Linked DNA regions of Homo sapiens. The protein of the gene in region 3 purifies or fractionates together with the protein of the main gene of each other region. This does not show direct contact. Each region holds a gene or a part of one and is shown on either strand. Other genes may lie near its edges. The genes, in order: IPO5, ALDH3A2, USP50, ACADM, ABCE1, SLC25A13 and MTHFD1L.

Evidence for each region.
Region 1: the proteins of USP50 (region 3) and IPO5 purify together in Homo sapiens (affinity purification with mass spectrometry; one large-scale study listed by BioGRID and IntAct). This does not show direct contact.
Region 2: the proteins of USP50 (region 3) and ALDH3A2 purify together in Homo sapiens (affinity purification with mass spectrometry; one large-scale study listed by BioGRID and IntAct). This does not show direct contact.
Region 4: the proteins of USP50 (region 3) and ACADM purify together in Homo sapiens (affinity purification with mass spectrometry; one large-scale study listed by BioGRID and IntAct). This does not show direct contact.
Region 5: the proteins of USP50 (region 3) and ABCE1 purify together in Homo sapiens (affinity purification with mass spectrometry; one large-scale study listed by BioGRID and IntAct). This does not show direct contact.
Region 6: the proteins of USP50 (region 3) and SLC25A13 purify together in Homo sapiens (affinity purification with mass spectrometry; one large-scale study listed by BioGRID and IntAct). This does not show direct contact.
Region 7: the proteins of USP50 (region 3) and MTHFD1L purify together in Homo sapiens (affinity purification with mass spectrometry; one large-scale study listed by BioGRID and IntAct). This does not show direct contact.

The regions. Positions count from the first base shown.
Region 1 is NC_000013.11:98,016,175-98,019,674, forward strand, and holds part of IPO5 (importin-5), read left to right. Parts: intron 1-554; coding exon 555-677; intron 678-2,310; coding exon 2,311-2,530; intron 2,531-3,406; coding exon 3,407-3,500. UniProt on the Homo sapiens protein: Functions in nuclear protein import as nuclear transport receptor. Serves as receptor for nuclear localization signals (NLS) in cargo substrates.
Region 2 is NC_000017.11:19,675,424-19,678,096, reverse strand, and holds the end of ALDH3A2 (aldehyde dehydrogenase family 3 member A2), read right to left. Parts: intron 2,540-2,673; coding exon 2,525-2,539; coding exon of another isoform or gene 2,472-2,524; 3' UTR 501-2,471; downstream 1-500.
Region 3 is NC_000015.10:50,540,167-50,543,666, reverse strand, and holds part of USP50 (ubiquitin carboxyl-terminal hydrolase 50), read left to right. Parts: coding exon 1-69; intron 70-2,402; coding exon 2,403-2,618; intron 2,619-3,500. UniProt on the Homo sapiens protein: Deubiquitinating enzyme that removes conjugated ubiquitin from specific proteins to regulate different cellular processes. Regulates the inflammasome signaling pathway by deubiquitinating 'Lys-63'-linked polyubiquitination of the PYCARD/ASC adapter protein.
Region 4 is NC_000001.11:75,748,709-75,752,208, forward strand, and holds part of ACADM (medium-chain specific acyl-CoA dehydrogenase, mitochondrial isoform a precursor), read left to right. Parts: intron 1-710; coding exon 711-851; intron 852-1,742; coding exon 1,743-1,838; intron 1,839-3,500. UniProt on the Homo sapiens protein: Medium-chain specific acyl-CoA dehydrogenase is one of the acyl-CoA dehydrogenases that catalyze the first step of mitochondrial fatty acid beta-oxidation, an aerobic process breaking down fatty acids into acetyl-CoA and allowing the production of energy from fats.
Region 5 is NC_000004.12:145,115,311-145,118,810, reverse strand, and holds part of ABCE1 (ATP-binding cassette sub-family E member 1), read right to left. Parts: intron 1,519-3,500; coding exon 1,397-1,518; intron 1-1,396. UniProt on the Homo sapiens protein: Nucleoside-triphosphatase (NTPase) involved in ribosome recycling by mediating ribosome disassembly. Able to hydrolyze ATP, GTP, UTP and CTP. Splits ribosomes into free 60S subunits and tRNA- and mRNA-bound 40S subunits.
Region 6 is NC_000007.14:96,312,099-96,315,598, forward strand, and holds part of SLC25A13 (electrogenic aspartate/glutamate antiporter SLC25A13, mitochondrial), read right to left. Parts: intron 1-3,500. UniProt on the Homo sapiens protein: Mitochondrial electrogenic aspartate/glutamate antiporter that favors efflux of aspartate and entry of glutamate and proton within the mitochondria as part of the malate-aspartate shuttle.
Region 7 is NC_000006.12:151,012,202-151,015,701, forward strand, and holds part of MTHFD1L (monofunctional C1-tetrahydrofolate synthase, mitochondrial isoform 2 precursor), read left to right. Parts: intron 1-1,577; coding exon 1,578-1,619; intron 1,620-2,678; coding exon 2,679-2,779; intron 2,780-3,314; coding exon 3,315-3,492; intron 3,493-3,500. UniProt on the Homo sapiens protein: May provide the missing metabolic reaction required to link the mitochondria and the cytoplasm in the mammalian model of one-carbon folate metabolism complementing thus the enzymatic activities of MTHFD2.

The DNA.
Region 1 (3,500 bases), on a different chromosome or scaffold from region 3:
TCTCTCATCAAACCACCTAGGACTGTCAAGCATACTTCATTGTGTGTTTAGAGTCCAGCATCTCATATGTGGCCACTTGGTGGGCCAGTGCTACCGTGTAGGTAGTACCAGCTTCCTGAAGGTGCCCACATGCTTGTAGGCCCAAATTGCCACTAACAGCGAGACCCCATTCTCCCCACCATCCACCCCGAAATGAGGATTATTCTGCTGAAAACAAAGTAAAAATAGTGAAAACACCTTTGTTTCAGAATGTAGAAATTAGAGATAATTTTTCAACCCATCTATTTTAAGTATGTTCCAAGGAAAATCTTTGCAATAAATACAGTTCTTGCCACACACCTTTGTCTTTCGAGGTAAGACTGGCCTTTGATTAGTAAGAGACATGATAACCCACACTTGAGGGTTACTCCGGTCTCTAGACTCTTGATTTACCCTTAAAACAGGAATGAGAAATTGATTTTCTGCATTTTTTAAGGTTTTTATAAATGTTACTATTGATAATAGAAAATATACTTTTTAATCCATATGAGTGTTTATGTGTATGTTTTTTTTAGGATGATAATGATGTTTATATTCTGACCAAAGTGTCAGATATTTTACACTCAATATTCAGTAGCTACAAAGAAAAGGTGTTACCATGGTTTGAACAGCTGCTTCCATTAATTGTCAACCTCATTGTAAGTGTTACCTCTCTTAATAGTTGTTTTGCGTAGTTTACCTGGAATTCTTTTCACTGCAACGTAAAATCTAATGCTTGAAGTTAAAATGGGTCTCAGAAATGATTGTTTCCATTGTACATCTTTGATTTTATCAAGTTGACTGCATTACCCTGGATATTTTCTCATTCATTATATGCTTGAAGATTCCTAACTTGGTTTTCCATAGGCCAATTCAGTTCTAACACATCTGAAAGATATATAAGTGATTTTTTTTATTATTTCAGATTATCTGTGCCCTCCTAAATTAATAAAAGGAAACAGAATGGTTACTTCTTTTTTAGTGGACCATAGATAATTCAATTATCTTTGTTATGTACTACCAGCAATCATGGATTATGGATAATGGGCATATATATATATATATGTATTTTTTTTTTACCTTCTCTCACCCTTATATTTGATTTTTTTAAAATGTTTTATAGACTTCTTTTTGTTTGTTTGTTTGTTTGTTTTTCTCAAGATGGAGTCTTGCTCTGTCGCCCAGGCTGGAGTGCAGTGGTGCAATCTCGGCTCACTGCAACCTCCGCCTTCTGGGTTCAAGCAATTCAGACGCACGCCACCACACCCGACGAATTTTTTGTATTTTAGTAGAGATGGGGTTTCACCATGTTGACCAGGCTGGTCTCCAACTCCTGACCTAGTGATCCACCCGCCTCGGCCTCCCAAAGTGCTGGGATTACAGGCATGAGCCACTGCGCCCAGGCCTACGCTTCCTATTTTAAAGCAGTTTTAGATTCACAACCAAATTGAACAGGAGGTACAGAGATTTCCCATGTGCCTCTGCCCCTGTGCGTGCATGGCCTCAGCACCATTAACACCCCCCATCACAGTAGTAGATACATGTGTTTCTGTTATGGACCTACATCAACACATCATATAATGGCCTATGTGTATTCAGTTTTTTTGTTTGTTTTGTTTTTTTGTATTTTTAGTTGTGTTTTTTTGTTGGGTTTTTAGTAGAGATGGGGTTTCACCATATCGGCCAGACTGGTCTCAACCTCCTGACCTTGTGATCCGCCCACTTTGGCCTCCTAAAGTGCTGGGATTACAGGCGTGAGCCACCTCGCCTGGCTGTGTATTCGGTTTTTAAAAAATATATTATAAATTAGCAGCTATCATCAGATGTTTGGAATTTTTCTTTTTGGCTTTCAATTTTGCATTTTATTGTATTAAGTAGTGCAGTACATTTTTTAAAAGATTCGGGCACACATGACTTAGCCTGTTGAATAAATGCTATAAGTTAAGATCTTTGCAGCTTTTATTATTATTGTATTTTTTTAATGTAGCATTACCATTGTCTTTTTTACAAAGTAAATTTATATACAATGCTTCCACTGTCAGTTCTTCTGTGTGATAGTGTCAGATTGTAGAGTTCTGTAACAAATCATACAAGTCTTTGAAACCTAAATTTTATTAAATCTGTGTATTTGATTGAATATCGTTGGTCACAAGAAGTGGTTGTTACTATGTTTTCTTTTTTCTTTTGCCTGTATGAGGAATATCAATGTAAGCAGATAGTCTATAGTGAATATTTCTTTACATTCTTTGTGTACACCAGTATTTGAAGCTTAAAAGAGAATTTCTTTTGTAGTGTCCACATAGACCATGGCCAGACAGACAATGGGGATTATGCATCTTTGATGATGTCATAGAACACTGTAGTCCAGCCTCATTTAAATACGCAGAATATTTCTTAAGACCAATGCTCCAATATGTATGTGACAACAGCCCAGAAGTCAGGCAAGCAGCTGCATATGGCCTGGGAGTCATGGCACAGTACGGTGGAGATAATTATCGCCCTTTTTGTACAGGTACGTTTGCTTATTCCGTTACGTGCATTTCATTCCAGACATCCTGTGAATCCCTACTTTACTCTCTTTACCACACTCCCAAACATTATTTGCCTATTTCTGCTGTAGTCTGTTTTCAGACATCTCATCTGTAGCATTTAGGATTTTAGATGATAAAAAGATGATTTATTCTCATAGAAATAGAATCAAAGACATCCCCTGCCCCCAGCCTTCCAGGGTGCATTTCTCTTTGCGTTTTGGCAATATACAACAGCCTTAGAATAGGACTTTTTTTTTTTTCTTTAATTGAGGCCCAGGCTGGAGTGCAGTGGCATGATCTCGGCTCACTGCAACCTCCGCCTCCCGGGTTCGAGCAATTCTGCTTCAGCCTCCTGAGTAGCTGGGACTACAGGCGCATGCCACCACGCCTGGCTAATTTTTTCTATTTTTAGTAGAGATGGGGTTTCACCATGTTAGCCAGGATGGTCTCGATCTCCTGACCTCGTGATCGGCCCACCTCAGCCTCCCAAAGTGCTGAGATTACAGGCGTGAGCCACCACACCTGGCAGAATAGGACTTTTAAAACTTACTGGGGAATATAGTTAGGCAGCTTTTAAAGTTTAAGGACCCTCGGGTGATGTGATGAGTACTGTAAATCTGGAGGCCACTAATCTCTCTGGGTCTCTAAGTTAGTAGAGGGCTAGTGCTCCTGTCCATGCTGGGGCAGTCCCCCCTCTGTTGCCATTCTGTAATGACATAGCCAAGAAGACAACACTTCCCATACACTTTAACATTTCTTTACCATAATCAATATCTGAACCAAATACAAAAATACATATATTCATTTGCATGAAAATGTGAGGTTTTAGCTGAACTTCTTTCAAATGCTTATTTTAGAAGCACTTCCCCTGCTGGTAAGAGTTATTCAGTCTGCGGATTCTAAGACCAAAGAAAATGTCAATGCTACAGAGAACTGCATCTCAGCAGTAGG
Region 2 (2,673 bases), on a different chromosome or scaffold from region 3:
ACTGAACTTTTTCTTCTAGTAGTGACATGATATAAATAAGGGCACAAAACAAGTAGGAACAGAGCACAGCAAAGTCATCATGGAAGCAATTCCAGACTCTATGCCACTGTTTGCCCAAGTGTGGTCCATGGTTAACAGGTATTAAGGTAAACGGCTCCGCGGTCAAGGAAGTCTGGGAGCTGCACACACTAGCACTTCAGAGGTTCCAAATGACCTGGGTCCTTTAGTTTGCTGATGTGCTTTACAAGCCAGTGGTATACAGGACTGGTGGCAGGACCATTTTTTTGTGTAAAATCTTGCGGGATTAGTGTTCTACAAATATGCTTACAGAAACACTTGTTCTAGATCAGCAACTGGGGGTAGGAGGATGCCACTGGAAAAACCTATTTACTATAGCTACTAACCACCACCCCCAACACACACAGCAGAACATAAAGTTTGAGAAAATCTTCTCAGCTAAGAATTTTAAAATGAGAAAAAAAAAGTTGACAAATACCATCTATGATAAAGACATAAAATGATTTATAGTTGGGGAGAATTTATGATCAAAGGATTGTCTCCAATAGGGTATATCTGAGGTTCCATACCAGGAGCGTCATTAAAATTGATGCCAATTTTATGAAATATGTTCATTTTGAAGCAGATGTGTATTAGTAGACAAGCCAATAATTTAAACATACTCAATGAAAATTCCATAGTGCAATTTTATCTAAGGTATTTTATGATTACTCTCTTAGAGCCACAGTTTTAAGCAGCTTTTTCCTAAACTAGGCTCGTTATTAATTTTCAACACTTCATACTATGATGAAGACATCACATACTTTAGACAGCCTTAATAGAACAAATTATTCAACAAAGTTGATTATACGTTCTATAAAGTAAATCACATTCTCTCATTGAGTGAGCTGAGTCTTTTTGAGTGTGGGGACAGAGTCCCTGCAGTCAGGAGCTCCAAGGCATAGAACTGCCTGCCCTGCTCTGTCCAGCAGGTAATGCTGCATTCCACAGGCCTCTTCTTCAGCCTTGCCCACTCAGCAGAGTACCTCAGGTTGTGACCATGAACGACTGATGAGAGTAACTTCTGACTTGCTCAGGGGATCCTCTTGCCATCAATTCCCTTCAGTATGACCAACCGCAGTGGCTTACTCGCTTCTTGTCCAGACCATCCACCATCTGTCTGCCCCATGATGCTCTCAAACCCCAAAGTCCTAATATCCCAGGCCTCTTTGTCTGTGAGAGGAAATGGTTCCCTCACTTTAAGTTCTGTAGGCTAATCAGAAAGGGATCTCTCTATAGTTTCAAAAAGTGAAATTTTACTTGCACTACAGAAATAAGAAACTTACAGATTTGTCCTTGAAGACCTACTAACCTGCAACTTTAGGGTCCTGAAAGAGGATTAGTATGTTTATAAGTACTTTTATTACAGTATTTTTTATTTGTTTCGGAGACAGGGTCTTGCTCTGTTGCCCAAGCTGAAGTGCAGTGGTGCAATCACAGCCTGCTGCAGCCTTGGCCTCGCAGGCTCAATCAATCCTCCTGCTTCAGCCTCCTAAGCAGCTGGGAACACAGGCTCATGCCACCACATCTAGCTAATTTTTATTTTTTGATAGAGATGAGGTCTCACTGTGTTGTCCAGGCTGGTCTCAAATTCCTGGACTCAAGCAATCCTCCCACCTCGGCCTCCCAAAGTGCTGGGATTACAGGCATGAGCCACCACGCCCGGCCACAGTATTTTTTAAATGCCAGTTAGGTTTTATAAGATGTAGAATTCTATAACTCCAACACAAGAATGACAGGTGATGCTTGCATGACTTTGGCAACTAACTTCCAGGAAGCCCTAGGATTTACAAGATGCTTTGAGTGACATTAGTCACAAGAGATTGTTGCAACTAAACAGAACACAGGATGATAAAGAATGAATGAGGAAGAATGAAGACCACTGGTGAGATGGCACTTCTGACCAGGGGCCTACTCCTGGAGGTCAAGTCCTTGAGTCCCATTGGAGGAGGAGTAACCCCTCCCTTCCCCACATAGAGTTTTAGTGCCTGAAACCTCACAGGGAACCAAGAAGATCTAATCTCACCTCTCTGGACTACAGAGGACTGCCGGTAGCCCTGGGAAGTACCAAGCTCTTGAAAGCTTCACACAGTGATGGTGGCAGCAGAGGCAGGAAGTGAGCAGTGCCATTAACTGGAGTGAAGGATTCAGTGAGGTTCTGAGACTCCCTTACAACCCCGCAGTTTGTATTTAGTCTAATACATTCTCCTCCCCTAGCTCAAAGTTCCAAGATTTAGATAAGCACAATTTAAGACAGGTTCCCTGAATACCCTATTAGGGAATGTTGGGACGTAGTTGAAATGGCAACTTTTATTAATGATGAATGGCAATGACTTTTAAGTTTGATCACAGAGTGTTTGCATATTTTCTTACTATTTTTGGTATGATTTAAAAATTATTGGTTCATTAACCATTTAAAAGAGGAATAATTCAGTAGAGGCACTAGGAGGTTGAACAGGATCATTCTTCAGTAATATTCTGCCTGGAGAGAGGAAAAAAGGATTCAGTTTACTCAGCTGCTTTAAAAACCTACCCACAACCAGCCTTGCAACACAAGCTCAGCACTGGGACTCAGACACCTCCTGTCTGAAGAGACTCTACATGCATTGTACAAAA
Region 3 (3,500 bases):
AAGATGCAACAAGATGCTCAGGAATTCTTGATTTGTGTCCTAAATGAACTTCATGAAGCTCTAAAAAAGGTAAGTAGAGTTAATGACCTTGAAATAGGATAGTCCTGAACCTTTATCAGCAGCTTCCATTTTTCATTCTTTTACTTGTTCAATTAATATTGTCTACTTTGTGCCAAGCACTGTGCTAGGTGTCCCATGGAGAACATCCAAGTTAGTATTTGAATGTGTAGCTGTATTTACCAAACTTACTTGTCATCAGAATCATCTGGGAAGATTTTACAACACAGATTTTAAGGCAAATACTCCAAGGGTAATTAATTAGAATGTCTTTTGGGAAAGCTTACTTGGCATTTCCAGTGGTCAGCTAGGCTTTGGAAACACTAATCTACTTTTCTTTGTAAATAGAGGCTGAATGGACTAGTTTTTAAAAGTGCAAAATATATTCCTCATGAGAAATAACATATAGAACTTTATAGCTTAAATTTTCTTGGGACCTACAAATCCATGAAAATATTAAGCTTGATATTAGATTAAGCAACAGATCTACGCACTACAAAGTTTCATCCTCATACCAAACATACCTAACCTGAGTTCATCACCGAATTAGGACATACATTTCATTAAACATGAAATCATCAGTTACTCTAGAGGTTTTGCCTTTATTTACAAAACTCACTGCCCTTAGCCTTGGTCTGAGACCCACATTCTCTGAAAATGTGTCCTTGACTTTATGCAACATCCTTCTGCTAACATTACCTCACTGCACCTCTAATACCCAGGGAATGGTTAGCATAAAGGTTGCAAACTATAGCTATTAATTGTTCTCATTGGCAGATCTCAGTTCCATTTTTCATTTAGAGTAATAAAAAAGTACTCATGGCCAGGCGCTGTGGTTCGCGTCTGTAATCCTAGCACTTTAGGAGGCTGAGGTGGGTGGATCACTTGAGGTCAGGAGTTCAAGACCATCCTGGCTAACACGGTGAAACCCCGTCTCTACTAAAAATACAAAAATCAGCCAGGCGTGGTGGCAGGAGCCTGCAGTCCCAGCTACTCGGGTGGCTGAGGCACAAGAATCGCTTAAACTCAGGAGGCGGAGGTTGCAGTGAGCCGAGATCATGCCACTGCACTCCAGCCTGGACGACAGAGCAAGACTCCGTCTCCAAGAAAAAAAAAAAAAAAAAAAAATGAAAAGGAAAAAAAAAAACAAAAACATATTCATGGCAGCACTTTTTTAAGAAAAGAGGTGAGTGGGCAGTAAAAATCACTTATGTCCTCTTCTACAGCCAATCTGAAACAAACAGCATTCTGTTTCCCAAGATCAAAGTAGGAATTAGGGGAATTAAGTTACTGTCAGGGTGGAAGACTTTGGCAGCAGAGTGTGATGAAAGGAGCAAGCAAAAATGGAATGCTGAGCACAGCCCCAAATTAGAGCCAGCTGTGGAGCTAACACATCTTCAAAATGTATATTCCACTGAGGCTCTTAAATCACTGAAAATTCAGGGTGTGCCCCAGAAATGCTGTTGCTGAGTATGAGCTGGATCCAAACCAGGCCACAAGGCTAGTTCCACCAGGCTGCCTTAGAAATTTAAGATTTGCTCTCTTATCTTTTTTTTTTTTTTTTAATTAACCTTGTAGAGACAGGATTTTGTTATGTTTCCCAATCTGATCTCAAACTCCTCCCGCCTCAGCCTCCCAAAGCACGACGATTACAGATGTTAGCCACCATGCCTGGCCAAGATTTGCTCTTTTAAAAAAGTGTTTTCTAGAAGTTAAAGGAGTAAAGGCTGCAGAATGTAACCTGAAGGGACTGGAGACAGGAAAGATTGGATTTCTTAATATTTTACCTTTAGATCTGCTTGAGTGAACTAATGCTAATTTAGCTTACTTACCCCCTTCCAGAAAAAACTAGCTCCCAAGGCTGGTAGCTTATGGGGCCATGGGTATATGTTTTACCAGAGTTAGACTGTCATCATTCCTCTGTTTCATCTAACGGGAAAATATCTGAATTATCAGAAATCACACATGATATATATACTTTCAAGGATATCTTACTCTATTGTCTGAATCCAAAACTAAGTGGTTTCTGGTAGCAATGTCTCATTCTGATAGAAAAAAAAATCAGTCATTTTATTGAAAACTTTTCCTTTTTTTTTGGAAACATGGTCTCACTCTGTCACCCAGGCTGGAGTGCAGTAGTGCTAACACGGCTCACTGCAGTCTCAAACTCCTAGGCTCAACTGATCCTCCAACCTCAACCTCCCAAGTAGCTGGCACCACAGATGTGTGCCACCATGCCTAGCTAATTTTTTGTTTTTTTTGTAGAGATGGGATCTCACCATGTTGCCACAGTCTTTTTTAAATAACCAATAATTAATTTGGGTGAAATTTGCTCCTTGATTCAGTACCACTACTCCCGGAGAAGATCATATGAGAAAGGATCTACTCAGAGATGCTGCAGGAAGTGGATTACCACTGAGACATCCATCATCACCCAGCTGTTTGAAGAGCAGCTCAATTATAGCATCGTATGTTTAAAGTGTGAGAAATGCACCTACAAGAACGAAGTCTTCACTGTCTTCTCACTCCCCATTCCATCCAAATATGAATGCTCCCTTCGGGTAGGAATGCAGTATTCCTGGACACTTTGTCTCGCTATACTCTCAGCCCCGGATTTTCTCGGGGCTGTTTCCTACATTTGTTTAGTATGAGAGACGGCTTTATAACTTTAATTTAAAAAAAAATAGACTGAGTGCGGTGGCTCATGCCTGTAATCCGAGCACTTTTGAAAGCCAAGGCAGGCGGATCACCTGAGGTCAGGAGCTCAAGACCAGCCTGGCCAACATGGTGAAACCCTGTCTCTACTAAAAATACAAAAATTAGTTGGACATGGTGGCGGGCACCTGTAATCCCAGCTATTTGGGAGACTGAGCCATAAGAATCGCTTGAACCTGGGAGGCGGAGGTTGTTGTGAGCCAAGATCGCACTACTGCACCCCAGCCTGGGTGACAGAGTGAGTCTCTGTCTCAAATAAGTAAATAAATAAATAAAAGAAAGAGGAAGTCCATGATGACAGTATTTTTTTTTATAGGGACATACTGGCCAAAAGTTCCTAGGAATTCAATCATATTTTTAAATGTACTCAACGAAATAGCCTGACTGTAAAATTGGAAATATAGTGGGGTTTATTGAGTCTATTGAGGTAGATTTGTGCATAAAAGAAATTTATAATTTCTTGCAAAAAGTTTATGACCCTCCCTTACCCCAGAGGTCTGTAAGGCCCAGATTGGGAACTAGATATAAAACATTCTAGACTCTTAGACTTGAGCTCTTATATTTTGGACTAAAGTTGTGAAATGTTTTGGAAAGAGAGAATGGAATCTAGTGCCTTGGTTTACCTCTCAAATTTTCTTCACCACAACGCCAAAAGTTAATCTGTAACTGGGGATGTGGGCATGGGGTGGGTGGCAGTAGAAGACAGCCAGCAATAAGGAGCAAACAAG
Region 4 (3,500 bases), on a different chromosome or scaffold from region 3:
TAAGTGTAGAATAAGGAAATTGACTATAAAGGGAGAACAAGGTAACTTTTTGGGGTTCTAAAGTACTCTGTATCTTGAGCATGGTGGTGGTTACACACATATACATTTGTCAGAGCTATTAGAAATGTATACATAAAAATGGTGACTTTTCTACATGTAAATTATACCTCAGTAAACCTAATTTTAACAGAGTCAAAGGAAAACAAAATCAATTTTTATTCAGTAGATTATTTTACTAGCTCTATTAAGATTAAAGGTCTCAAATCAGATTGTGTTTACTAAATGTTTTTTCTGACATGGTAAAATAGATAGCTTTCAAACATATAATGAGATTTGTCTTTGTTGATAAGATGTACTTGTAGACCTTTAGACTAGTGTTGGTTTCAAAATTTGTGAAACATTGTTTTAGATTATGGTTGGCAAATTTTTTTGTAAAGATCCAAATTATAAATATTTCAGGCTTTGCAGGCCATATCTCTGTCACAACTACTCAGTTCTGCCATTGTAGCAAGAAAGTAACTGTAGATGATATATGAACAAATAGGCGTGACTGTATTCCAATCAGGCTTTCTTTGCAAAACAGGCATTGCAGACTACAGTTTGTTGATCCCTGTTTTAGGTAATTGCAGAAAGTCATGAAACAGTGATTAAAGCAAAAATTGATGCTGGCTCAAAAAAAATTCCTTAAAATATATCAATTTTCTTATTAGGAATTAAACATGGGCCAGCGATGTTCAGATACTAGAGGAATTGTCTTCGAAGATGTGAAAGTGCCTAAAGAAAATGTTTTAATTGGTGACGGAGCTGGTTTCAAAGTTGCAATGGGAGCTTTTGATAAAACCAGACCTGTAGTAAGTAATATGGGTTCATAATCTTTATAGGATCTTTTATTTATTACATTAAATAAGTATTTTTACTTTAAAATTGTATGTTCAGTGTGTTTCTCTTTTTAATATCTGCTTATTTTATTAAGGATATAGGAAAAATACTGTTACTTTTCTTTCTTTTTTTTTTTTTTTTTTTGAGACAGAGTCTCACTCTGTCACCAGGATGGAGTGCAGTGGTGCAATCTCAGCTCATTGCAACCTTCACGTCCTGGGTTCAAGAGATTCTCCTGCCTTAGCCTCATGAGTAGCTGGGACTACAGGTGCACACCACTCTGCCCAGCTAATTTTTGTATTTTTAGTAGAGATGGGGTTTCATGATGTTGGCCAGGATGGTCTCGATCTCTTGACCTCGTGATCTGCCTACCTCGGCCTCCCAAAGTGCTGGGATTACAGGCGTGAGCCACCGCGCCTGACCATATTGTTACTTTTCTTAATTTTTTAAATAATTCTTCAAGTTTTCTTACTATACATTATAGAAATTATTTTAGCAACTGCAAAATTACTGTAGTTGGTGCTAGATTTAGAGAGGCAGTCCACCCTAAATATGATCATCCTGTTAATATGTACTCATTTTCTGTTTTTACTCATTAAGAACATTTCCCCTAGTAAGATTTCTCTTGTTAAACAAAAGCAATGACTTTTTTCTAGAGTATGATACTATGCCTAACAAATGCCTCTTACTACCTTTAATTAACAAATAATATAAACTTACGTGCCTATTCCCTGTTCCCCACCAGTTTCTTGTTGCTGTACATCACCTTCTCTTTGTACACTCCCTAACATAGACACTTAGGCAGATATTGTGTGTTTTAAAGATAACATGAACTTTTGCTTTATAATATCTTAAAATACTAGGTAGCTGCTGGTGCTGTTGGATTAGCACAAAGAGCTTTGGATGAAGCTACCAAGTATGCCCTGGAAAGGAAAACTTTCGGAAAGCTACTTGTAGAGGTAATTTTAATACTGCTTGCTTTGTTCAAATGTAAAGACACTCATTTTCATTTAATATTTAGAAATGATTTTTAAACCACAAACTAATCAATTTCTACTTTGATAGCAAGAAGATAATGTGGTTTTATCAAGATGAGTTTCAAAGACATTTCTTTTTAGAGTGTGCCACTATTGGTTACTTCTGAACCTGACACTGTGCTATGCATTTTTTTTTTTTTTTGAGATGGAGTCTCGCTCTGTTGCTCAGGCTAGAGTGCAGTGGCACAATCTCGGTTCACCACAGTCTCCGCCTCCCGAGTTCGAGTAATTCTCCTGCCTCAGCCTCCCAAGTAGTGGGAACTACAGGTGCGCACCACTATGCCTGGCTAATTTTTGTATTTTTAGTAGAGATGGGGTTTCACTATGTTGGCCAGGCTGGTCTCGATCTGCCCGCCTCAGCCTCCCATAGTGCTGGGATTACAGGCATGAGCCACTGGGCCCGGCCTTGTGCTATGCATTTTAAATATATTTTCTAGCCGGGCGCGGTGGATCACGCCTGTAATCCCAGCACTTTGGGAGGCTGAGGCGGGCGGATCATGAGGTCAGGAGATCAAGACCATCCTGGCTAACACGGTGAAACCCCGTCTCTACTAAAAATACAAAAATTAGCCGAGCATGGTGGTGGGCGCCTGTAGTCCCAGCTACTCGGGAGGCTGAGGCAGGAGGATGGCGTGAACCCAGGAGGCAGAGCTTGCAGTGAGCCAAGATCACGCCACTGCACTCCAGCCTGGGCGACAGAGTGAGACTCCGTCTCAAAAAAGAAAATATATATATATTTTCTGATTCTCTCAGTAACCCTTTTTTGGGTGGTGTTATCTCTTTTAAGGATCAAGAAACTGAAGCTCAGAGGTATTAAATGATTTGTCCAAGGCCACACAATTTATAAGTCACAGATCCAGGATCCTTGCTTTTTTTTTTTTGCGGGGGGTGGGAGACAAAGTCTTGCTCTGTCGTCCAAGCTGAAGTACAGTGGCATGATCTGGGCTCACTGAAACCCCCACCTCCTGTGTTCAAGTGATTCTCCTGCCTCAGCCTCCCGAGTCGCTGGGACTACAGGCACACACCACCACACCCAGCAAATTTTGATATTTTTAGTAGAGATGGGGTTCCCTTATGTTGGCCAGGCTGGTGTTGAACTCCTGGCCTCAAGTGATCTGCCTGCCTCGGCCTCCCAAAGTGCTAGGATTACAGGCCTGAACCACTGCGCCTGGCCTATGTTATACTCTTAATTCTTGTTACTTCCCATGTCCTCTTGAGTATCAGATAATTTTAGTACTATAAAGAGTCGTGTCTTCCATGAATTTCCAGGGTAATTCTTAACTCTTACCCCTTTAAATATTGATGCTCCCCCATTATCTGTATTCTTTCCTGCAACTCACTATGAGTTGTATAGTGAACCTCCTATTTCTCTTTTTTTTTTTTTTTGAGACAGGGTCTTGGTTGCCCAAATGCGAGTGCAATGGTGCAGTCATGGCTTATTGCAGCCTCTTGGGATCAAGCAATCCTCCCACCTCAGCCTCCTAAATAACTGGAACTATAGGGGCACACTACCATGCCTGCCTAATTTTTTTATTTTTGTAGAGATGAGGTCTCACTATGTTGCCCAGACTGGTCTCAAACACC
Region 5 (3,500 bases), on a different chromosome or scaffold from region 3:
TACAGTTTATAGAAAGCTTTTAAGTATGCTGCACTGATTTCAATATATTAAAGGAACAGAGAAAAACTAAAGTTTCTTAAGCTGTTTTAATAGATCGAGCACATTAAAAACCTTACTGGGTACCATTTACTGAATGGCACAGCCTTTAGACATGACATTTATAACTGGAGTTGTGAAGAATGACTGCCGAGTACCCATATTATTATCAACTTGATTCAAAGACTACCATATGGTATAGAGTAAGGTACTCAATACATATTTGTTAATTGACAAGAATAAAACATTAATAAATTTGTTCTGATGTCATCCCTTAAGACTACTGGCAAGAAAACTAGGTAACTGCAAATTTTTCTTTAAAGTATGCATCTATCTCAAATGTATAAGTAGGTAAGTTACAACCATTTCTTCCCCACATCTTAATATTTATGTACTTTTTATAAATTATAAAAACTCCCAATATCTTTTTATGAAAAGGATTATAATGCAATATAAATTTATTTTTCCAAAAGAGCTTTTAGGTATAAAAAAGATTCCTCCAAGATTAAAAAAAAAAAAAAGAAAGAAAGAAACCAAAAAACCTGTCACCTCTTAGGGAACTACAGGCTACATGAATTTTTCTACTTCTAGGAGATGGTATTTTTTTCCTGAGTAAACAGCCCTTTTAGTGTTCTGAATTGTCAGTTTAAGACAGGTGGAGAGAAAAATAAAAATAAGACACAAGTAAGGAAGCAGTGAAAGGAAAATGGGAAGAAAAAAAGGAAAAAGGTATTGAAGGCAGAGAGTACATTGGTACTTTTTTTTAAGGAGCCACTTAGTGGTACGCTAGTTTCTATTTTTGCTTAAATTACACAGGTAAGGAGGAGACATGGAAGGGAGAGGCCAGGGAATCTCATTTTCTTGGAAGTACAAAGACTAAATGAAAATTTTAATACACTTACTAAACTATCTTATTAGGTTTTTAGATAGCCTTAGTTCCAAAAACATAGTATACATATTACAGATAAATTTAAAACATGAAAACAAGATGAACACTGAAAGCATTTTAAGAGTTTCATTACTGGTATTGGCCTGTCAAAGTTAATTTGAAAATGACAAATACTACAGTAATACTGCAGAAGCCAAAATGCAGAGGACTTTTACTGTAGCCTCCCAACCCCCAACAAAAGTAACATTGCATTTCTACCCATCCCCAGGAGAAAATTCTCCAAAATGAAAAAAATATATTTTGTATAACAACTGATATATATAACCTTATATGCTCAGTGATTAAATTCCAAGGAACTAGAGTTTTGGATGATATCAGACCAATGTAAAACTACTTAATATCAATAATGTAGTTTATAAGCATTAGAGTAGAAGAGAATACAGCATATGTGAAAAAAGTTTTTCAAGTTACCTTCTCTTACACTAAAAGGCATAGTGACAACTCCATAGGCGCTTGGTACACCATATAAACAGCAGATGAAGTCGGAGAGATAGTCTAATACACTTAGATCATGTTCCACCACAATGATATATCTGAAAATCAAACCAGATTTTAGTTAAAACTCTTACATAACTATTTTTAATAGTTGGAAATTTCAGAAAAAGAGATACATCTAATAAAATTTAAGCATAAAGACATAAGAAGCAAAAGCCATAAAACATTTTTAGTAAGGCTCATTATCAATGCTCATATTTAAAAATGTTTTCCTGAACTAAAAGGAAAAAATCAGCCAATTTAAAAGTTTATTGATATATGAATTAAATGCATTCTGCTAATAAGAAACATATTTCGAAATAAGTGTTACAAAGTAATTATAATAGATTTAATTCAGATGTAGCCTAAACTGTTTATTATGCTACTCAATTTATGTATTAAGCCCTGTACCTGTCCTGTCCCATGCTAGCTGTAGTAGGGGATGGACGCATACACAAAGATAGGACAGAATCCTTAACCTGAGACGTTTCCATTTAGCTGGGGAAGACAAGGAATAGGTATGAAATGGTAACAAAAAAAGATTACATGGCAAAATATGCTCCACAGATAATAAAATCAGTGAACATCAGAAAGAAAATAGGTTAGTGGGTACTGGAGCACTTTATGAATGAGAATGGGATATGATGTGAAGCTTAAGTGGCTATATTTGAATGAAGTGATACAGTATTGGCTGGAATAGAAGTTTTAGACGCAAGTAATAGTCATGAAGGTTTTATGTAGCACTTTATTCCCATTTCCATATCGAACACCATTCAACATGTTAAAAAAATGTCCTGCAAACATCTCATATGTCAAATTAATGTATCAGCTTCCTACACAAATAAAAATTCTCCATATTTGTATTAACGAAATTATCATTCCCTCAAAAATGACATTTTATTCCCACTGATATTTTGTTTAAACTGTTAAAGTCTGTGAATTCCTTCTCAACAATGTCTTGTGTTTCAATCTCACCCTTTTTCTTCTTTGCCTAAATTCTAGTTCAGGCCCTCGTATTTCTTTCATATCTCATTTTCTTTAGGTCCCCTGATGTGGGTCTCAATTCCAAATGAAATTAATCACTTAAATTAATTAGACTTAGACTTTCAACACTTTCTAAAACTTTAGTTACTATCTTTCTATTAGCTCATACACAGGAAACACTGAAGAATGCATCTTTTTTCTTAAATAAACCACTTCTCTACTTCTCTGGTGTCTAGGAAGCTATTCTTTTTCTAAGTAGTCTCCTGCCTAGATCTTTACCTGCTGAAATCCCACCTAACCCTTTAAGGTCCATCTCAAATCCAACTTGCTATGGGAATACTTTTCCTAATATGCAAATGAGCTTTCCCCCTCACTCTTGAATACTGGTAACAAGTATTTGGACTGATACTTGGACTTTTATTATTTTTGATTACCCCATAACTTGCTCATAAACATCTTAAGGGAGACTCTTAATACATTTTAGCACCTCTGTGATCTTTAGTCTTACACTGTGTACTAACAGACACCTAAAAAAGTTGTTGAATGACAAAATGAAGAGTATGAACTAATTGGAAATGAGGAAGATAGTAGTAGGTTCTGAAATAGCACTGTCCAGAACTTTCTACAATTATGAAAATGTTCTATCTCTATGTTGTCCCATATAGTGACTACTAGCCATAAGTTGAATGTTGCTAGTTTGATGAAATAAAATTTTAATTTCAATTAAAATTTAAATAAGGATGTTTGTCTAGAGGCTACAGCACAATTCTAGAGTAAGGGAATGAAATGAGAAAACATTTCAGGAGTAATCTGGCAAGAAAAAAAAAGTAACAATGGAAAATTGGAAAATAAGAGCAGGTCTAAGATGAAAAGGGAAAATTAAAAGGAAATGTTTTCTACCACAATGGTGGTAATTATCAATAAAAATGGCAAATCACCCAGGTGAGCTGGTGATACTCATCTTGCATCGGTGTCTTTGTTGGCACTAATCCATTACATGGAATACTTCTCTACTCTTAAAATCCTATGTTTCCTTAAACAGCCAGTGTGAGGGAGC
Region 6 (3,500 bases), on a different chromosome or scaffold from region 3:
TGCATAGCAAGATAAATTAAAGAGGGCAATGCAGCACACTGGTTATGTGCTTGGGCTCTGGAGCCAGGCTGCCTGTGTTGAAATCATAGCTCTCCTATTTACAAGCCATGTGATCTTGGGCAAGTTATGTAATCTCTCTGTACCTCAAAGAACTTAACTACTCTGTACAAATGAGTTTCTCGATGTATATTATGAAGGTGAGAGCACTTACATGTCATAGGATTGTTATGAAGATTGCATTAGTAGATATAAAGTGCTTGGAACAGTGTCCGGCTTTTACAAGTGTTATATAAACATATGCTAATATTATTATTATTATTTGCATAACCTTTTTGAGCCTTAGGTTTCTTTATCTGACAAATGAGGTTATCAACACGTTCCCTGCTACCTTGTAGATGATTATAAAGATCAAATAATGAAGCTTGGGTCTTTATATTATCTGGTTATATTAATCCCTGAAGACTTTGAGCTTCTTGAAAACAAATCTAGTAGCTTACCTGTTTTTGGAATCCCAGCACAGTGTAGGCACTGACAAACAGTCGTCGTCACTTATGCCCTTGAATGCACTTTTTAAAGCTGCTAAGTACTGTACCCATGAACACGGTAGTGCTATTATCATGGCAACAAGAGCCAATCTTAGAAAAGTCCTTTGGCAGTCTGGACAGAATGGAGAGGAAGGTGTAGGGATGAGATCAAAAGCAAGGGGATCAGTGGGAGCTACAGCAATGGTACAGCTACAAAATAAAGAGGCCCTGAATTTGAACAGAGAAGATAGGACATACATGCTCCATGGCCGTAGAAGGGTTTCACTGATCCACCTCTTTTGCCACATCCAATTCAGGCTGATGGTGTCTCTCCTATCTGCCCATAACAGGTACTTAATTGAACTAACTAGAAACTTTATCAGGAAAGTGAAGCTGCAGGATGAAGTCAGGAATGACCAAAAAGATGGATTCAGTTATAAGAACTGGTGAGTTCTAGGTCAGCAGAGTTTGAAATATCTTTGAGACAGACAAGTTGAGTCTTCCAGCTCAAACTAAACAGCTAAAAGTGCAGGGCTAGAGCTTGAGACAGCCACCCAGGCTGAGGAGTGTTAAGGAGCCAATACCCATTAAGGGGGCAGGTAGTGCGGCAGGAACTGGAGGGAGGAGACAATCTCAGGCACAGCCTTGGGGGACACTAACCTTCCAGGTGTCCAGGCAGAATGAAGAGAAGCCCACAAGGCACAGCACTATTCACAGTAGCAAAGACAGGAAACCAACCTAGGTGCCCATCAATGGTGAATTGCATAAAGAAAATGTGGTATATATCCACCGTGGAATACCTTGCAGATATAAAAAGAACAAAATCATGTCCTTTGCAACAACATGGATGCAGCTGGAGGCTATGATCCTAAGTGAATTAATGCAGGAACAGAAAACCAAATATCACATGTTCTCACTTATAAGTGGGAGCTAAACAATGGGTACTCATGGACATAAAGATGGCAACAATAGACACTGGGGACTACTAGAGGGAGGAGGGAGGGGAACAAGGGTTGAAAAACTAATTATTGGGTACTATGCTCAGTACCTGGGTGATGGGGTCAACTGTACCCCAAGCCTCAGCATCATGCAATATATCCAGGTAACAAATCTGTACATGTACCTCCGGAATCTAAAATAAAAGTTGAAATTATTTTTTAAAATGTACATTTAAAAAAAAAGAAAGTAAGACCCTTTGTTAGATTCAGAAAAAGTGAAAGATTTCTAGATTTTTGCTAAAGTAATGCTTCTCAAAAGGTGCAGCATTAGTGCTGGACCTACATATACCTGACCTGTACAGGGAAGGGAAAAACACTACATTTTTGGCCAAAATTCCTCATTGGTAAACTAGTACATTCTGTTTTGAAGATTAGGGTAAAGTGTACTATCATTCTATATGCATATGTCATGCTGCTAAACACTAAAATAAAAATATATCTTTGCTGGGAAGAAAGAAGACGAAAGAAGAAAGAAGAAGGAAGGAGAAGGAGGAGGAAGAAGGAGGAAGGAAGGAGGAGAAAGGATGAAGGACGAAGAAGAAGGAAGAAGAAGAAGAAGCCTGCAAAGGAGAATAAAGGGGTAATATGAGATGCTAGAGGCCAATAATGAGAGGGGACATCATGAAAGCAGATGGCGAGAAAGAAAGGGTAGGACACAGGGTCATGTGAGGCCAGAAATGAGGACAAGCCAACAGGTTTAGAACTGAGGTTACTGGTGACTTTTAGGAGAAGGACATTTAATTTAGTTCATTTCACCCAATTAGAGGGTCTGTCTGGTTAAACAGGCCATGAAAATAGAGTTTGCTCAGTAGCTGTTAAATACTTTGCTAAAGGAATTGTATCACTACACAAAGGCATATCCCCCTCCTTACCTCCAAGCAGAACCAACACATGTCTCAGCGTCACACATTCCTCTGTTGCAAGGTCCACCCTAAGGCAAACCCACAGAGTCTTATGAGGAAATCTGTAGGTGTTTATGAGGCAGCAAATGCCAACCAGAGAGGAGGAAGCGCTCAGCAGGAATGCCATAATAGATAATCCTCACACATAGTGGAGAACAAAGGGAGGAATGGTTCCCTCTAAGAATTCATCAAAAGCAGAGACTGGTCATGGGACTAAAGGTCTAAGAGACCAAAGCACAGAGGAGTCAGAGCTCCTCGGACAATCTTCTAAAAGAACTCAATATCCAAAAAAGACCTGCTCCCTGACTTTTTTACGCTACATATCACCTTTCAACTCTCCCCACACCTTTCCAACCCTCTATTTGCTGTGAAGCCATATGACCTAAGCCAGGGAACACTGGCACCACATGGCCCTGGATGAGGTTAGCCCAGGAGAGGGCTCTGAGACCAGGTTTGCTCTTTGTAATGCTTCCCTCCTCCAGCACCTTCTCTGATCACAAAAAACCACTGAGACTCTGCAGGAGACAAATGGAGCTTTCAGTCAAGTTTGGGATTAAAACCTCTATTCCAGGATTATCACAAAACTGTATAAACTTGATGCCTAAGCACCCTGGAGACACCAGGCAGGACTAAGACAAAGCTGTCAAGAAAGAAGAGAAATTTGGAGAAACCCCTACATACCCCTCCTTTGAACTGACACACCAGGGACTTTAACTTAATCTCACTGCATTCCATTCTTACTCCAAGAAGGAGCCAGCAGGTCTCTTGAAGCAATGTGCACCAAAATAACAGTGGTTGTCAAGCTTTCAAAAATCCTGAGGCTCAGGCCACACCCAAGTCCAATTCAATCATGATCTCTGGAGGGAGACCCAGGCATCAGCAGTTTTTTATACCAGTCCAGAAGACTTCAGTATGTAGGGAATCACTGGCCTAGAGCAGTGCCAAAAGCAAAGGCATTCATGGGAATTTGGACCAATAACAAATGTTTCTGGGACTCCATTTCTAGGACTCTCCTGGTAAAAGGGGACAGGACTGAGGAAGGAAAGAGTAAAGATCATTGTGTTAACATAAATTCC
Region 7 (3,500 bases), on a different chromosome or scaffold from region 3:
TTGGTATGGTCCAAGTGTCTGGCATGGTCTATATGCAGGGAGTGTTTTCAATAATGGCAAGATAAATGAACTTTCATCCTCTTAATCCTCTATTCCATAGTGCTCATCTCGGTGTCCTTCCTTCATATTGAATAGCTCTGTATTTTTGAACCATGATTATTCATTTCTACTTCTGTTTTCTTTTTTCTTTTTTGCTACAAATACTGCGCTGGGATCGACTTCCTTTTGATCATTACACAAATAACCATGGCTGCCTCTTATGTTTATTCAGCTTGTTTTTTTTCCATAATTTGTACAGTGGAAAATCTTGTGGCCCTTGAATTTGCCCATTTTAAATTTGCCCTCAGTCATTTTAAACTCACATCCTGTCCCCCAGAGTGCTCGGCCATTCCCAGTGCAATCCAATAACTAATATTGTGCTATGCTTTGGGATCCACAGATTCTTTCACAATTAGATCTTTAAACTAACCATTGTATGAATCAGCATTCTTCACACATAGAACCAATAAGGATGTGTGTATATATAGAGAAAGATATTTATTGTAAGGAATTGGGTCACATGATTACAGAAGCTGGCAAGTCCAAAATCTGCACTGTGGGCTGGCAAGCTGAAGACCCAGGAGAGGCAGTGGTGCTAATGCAGTCTGAAGGCAGCAGTCTGCTGGAGAATTCTCCTGCTCTCAGGGGAGGCCAGTCTTTTTGTTGTACTCAAAAAGGCCTTTGACTGGTCAGTTGAGACCCACCCACATTATGTAGGACAACTTGCCTACTCAGAGGCTGCTGATTTCCATATCAATTTCATCATAGACACCCTCACAGAAACACGCAAAATAATGTTTGAACAAATACTGGACACCCTATGGCCCCAGCAAAGTTGACACATAAGATTAACCACAAGGCCAGGCACAGTGTTTCACCCTGTAATGCCAGCACTTTGAGAGGCCGAGGTGGGAGGACTGCTTGAGCCCAAGAGTTCGAGACCAGCCTGGGGAAGATAGCAAGACCTCGTCTCTACAAAATAATAAAAAATTATCTGGGTGTGGTGGTACACACCTGTATTCCTAGCTACTGGGGAGGCTGAGGCAGGAGGATCACTTGAGCCCAGGAGTTTGAGACCGCAGTGAGCTGTGATTGTGCCACTGCCCTCCAGCCTGGACAACAGAACTTTATGGCAATTACCGTAAAATGATTTCGAATGGTGATGTACTCTGTATAAATCAAGTATTAAACATATTATTAGTTTTATGTTCTAATTTGAACCAATGTTTGAGAAGTTTCATACTGTTCCATTGGCTCAAATTAGAATCATCCAGGGAGATTTTAAACATTACTGATCCCAGGTTCCCCTCCCAGAACTTCTGCTTTCATTGGTCTGGGTGGAGCCCAGGGATCAGTGTTTTCTAAAAGCTTCCCGCAGGAGTTTAGGTTTAGCCAGTGCTGCCAGCTACTGTTTTAAAAGCACAAAACATAGAGGTACATTTCTAAAAATTGAATGTGATTATGTTGTTCTTTCTTTCAGATCGGTTGTGTAAGCATTTTTATAGGATTATTCTTCATGTTTTCTCTCCTTATTTCAGGTAACGGCTGGTGTTCCTCTTAAGAAAGAATATACAGAGGAGGTAAGAGGAGCTGTTTAGATGCTTATGTGAAGAATCTCTTAAATCCAGTGACTCGTTGGCTTTCAGTGAATGAGCCCTCCTTCAGTGGCCTCTTAGAAAAGTGCTGTTCTGTCCGGGCGCAGTGACTCACACCTGTAATTTCAGCACTTTGGGAGGCCAAGGCGACCGGATCACATGAGGCCAGGAGTTCAAGACCAGCCAGGCAAAACCCATGGCCAACATGGCAAAACCTCATCTCTACTAAAAATACAAAAATTAGCTGGGCATGGTGGCTCACGCCTGTAGTCCCAGCATGAGAATCGCTTGAACCTGGGAGGCAGAGGTTGCAGTGAGCTGCGATCGCACCACTGTACTCCAGCCTGGACGACAGAGTGAGACTCTGTCTCAAAAAAAAGAAAAGAAAAGTGCCGTTCTAAGAATCCGAGAGGAAATGGATGGGATGAAAGGATAAAATTCATTCAGTTAACTCTTAAATATCAAGAAAAGATGGATATAGGCTTTGTCTACTATTGTGTACTCCCAGGGTAGCCATCAGAGCAGGAACTCAAGGTCTCCAGGTCAGAAACAAATATGAAGCTTACACTTCTGTATTCTTTTGTCATGGAAGGTCTATATACAGTTGGCTTTATGATTTACAGGAGTGGCTTACTCTTTTCTGTAAATAGACTTTGATTTGCTGGCAGCAGTACCTCTTAGCTCCTACAGGTGGCGCCAGGGATCTGAGCCAGGAATACCTGGTCAGAGCTCCTCACCCACCTGGGGCCTTGTGCCTGTCAGGCCTCAACCTGCAGAGCATGGGCGCATTGCATAGACCCTGCAGCCTGTCCTCAGCAGGGTGAGCTGCCAGGCTTCAGACCCACCCATATGCCATTGGATCCAGAATCATTTTAGAAATTATTTTGAAGACGAACCTCTTTATTCTTGCAGCCATCTTTCTTGGAGGAAAAAGTGAAAAAAGATGTAGCAAATCCTGCCAGAGAGGTGCTGGCAGTTTAGCTTGGCAGGTTTGGTGGGAGACAATACACAGGGGTCTGGGTTTTGCTTTTTTCTTTTTTACAGAACATCCAGCTGGTGGCAGACGGCTGCTGTAACCTCCAGAAGCAAATTCAGATCACTCAGCTCTTTGGGGTTCCCGTTGTGGTGGCTCTGAATGTCTTCAAGTAAGTCCAGCCTCCTCCTTTAAATGTGGGCATTATCACTAGGCCACCCTGTGAACGATATTTGTGTCTTGGGGTATTTGGTCTTTCTGTGCTTCATCTAAAAGTATACAGAAATACCCAGTTCTTTCTGTTTGTTTATTTGGTTTGGTTTCATTTTAGCAAATGTGTTCTCACAATGTTATTAAGGAAGTGAAATTTATATATAGTGAGTTACTATCTCCTTGGCTTTTTTTTTTTTTTTTTTTTTTAATTCTACCCAGCATTTTTGTCTGAAACAAACTGTGAATGATCAAAGGGATATGTTATGGAATTTTCTTGATAACACCCTTAACGACTTGAAATATTTGAGTCACTTTAGAGAGGACTTTTTTTTTCCATGCTTTAAGTCTGATTTATTTAAACACGATGTGACCACTTTTGATGTTTAAAATGTATTCAGTGTTAGGGAGCGAAGTTCTGTATAAATGGTGAGTCTTTCTTTGAAAACATAGCTAAATGGATACAGATGCAAAACCACAAACATTTTCTTCACTAGGACCGACACCCGCGCTGAGATTGACTTGGTGTGTGAGCTTGCAAAGCGGGCTGGTGCCTTTGATGCAGTCCCCTGCTATCACTGGTCCGTTGGTGGAAAAGGATCGGTGGACTTGGCTCGGGCTGTGAGAGAGGCTGCGAGTAAAAGAAGCCGATTCCAGTTCCTGTATGATGTTCAGGTAAGATC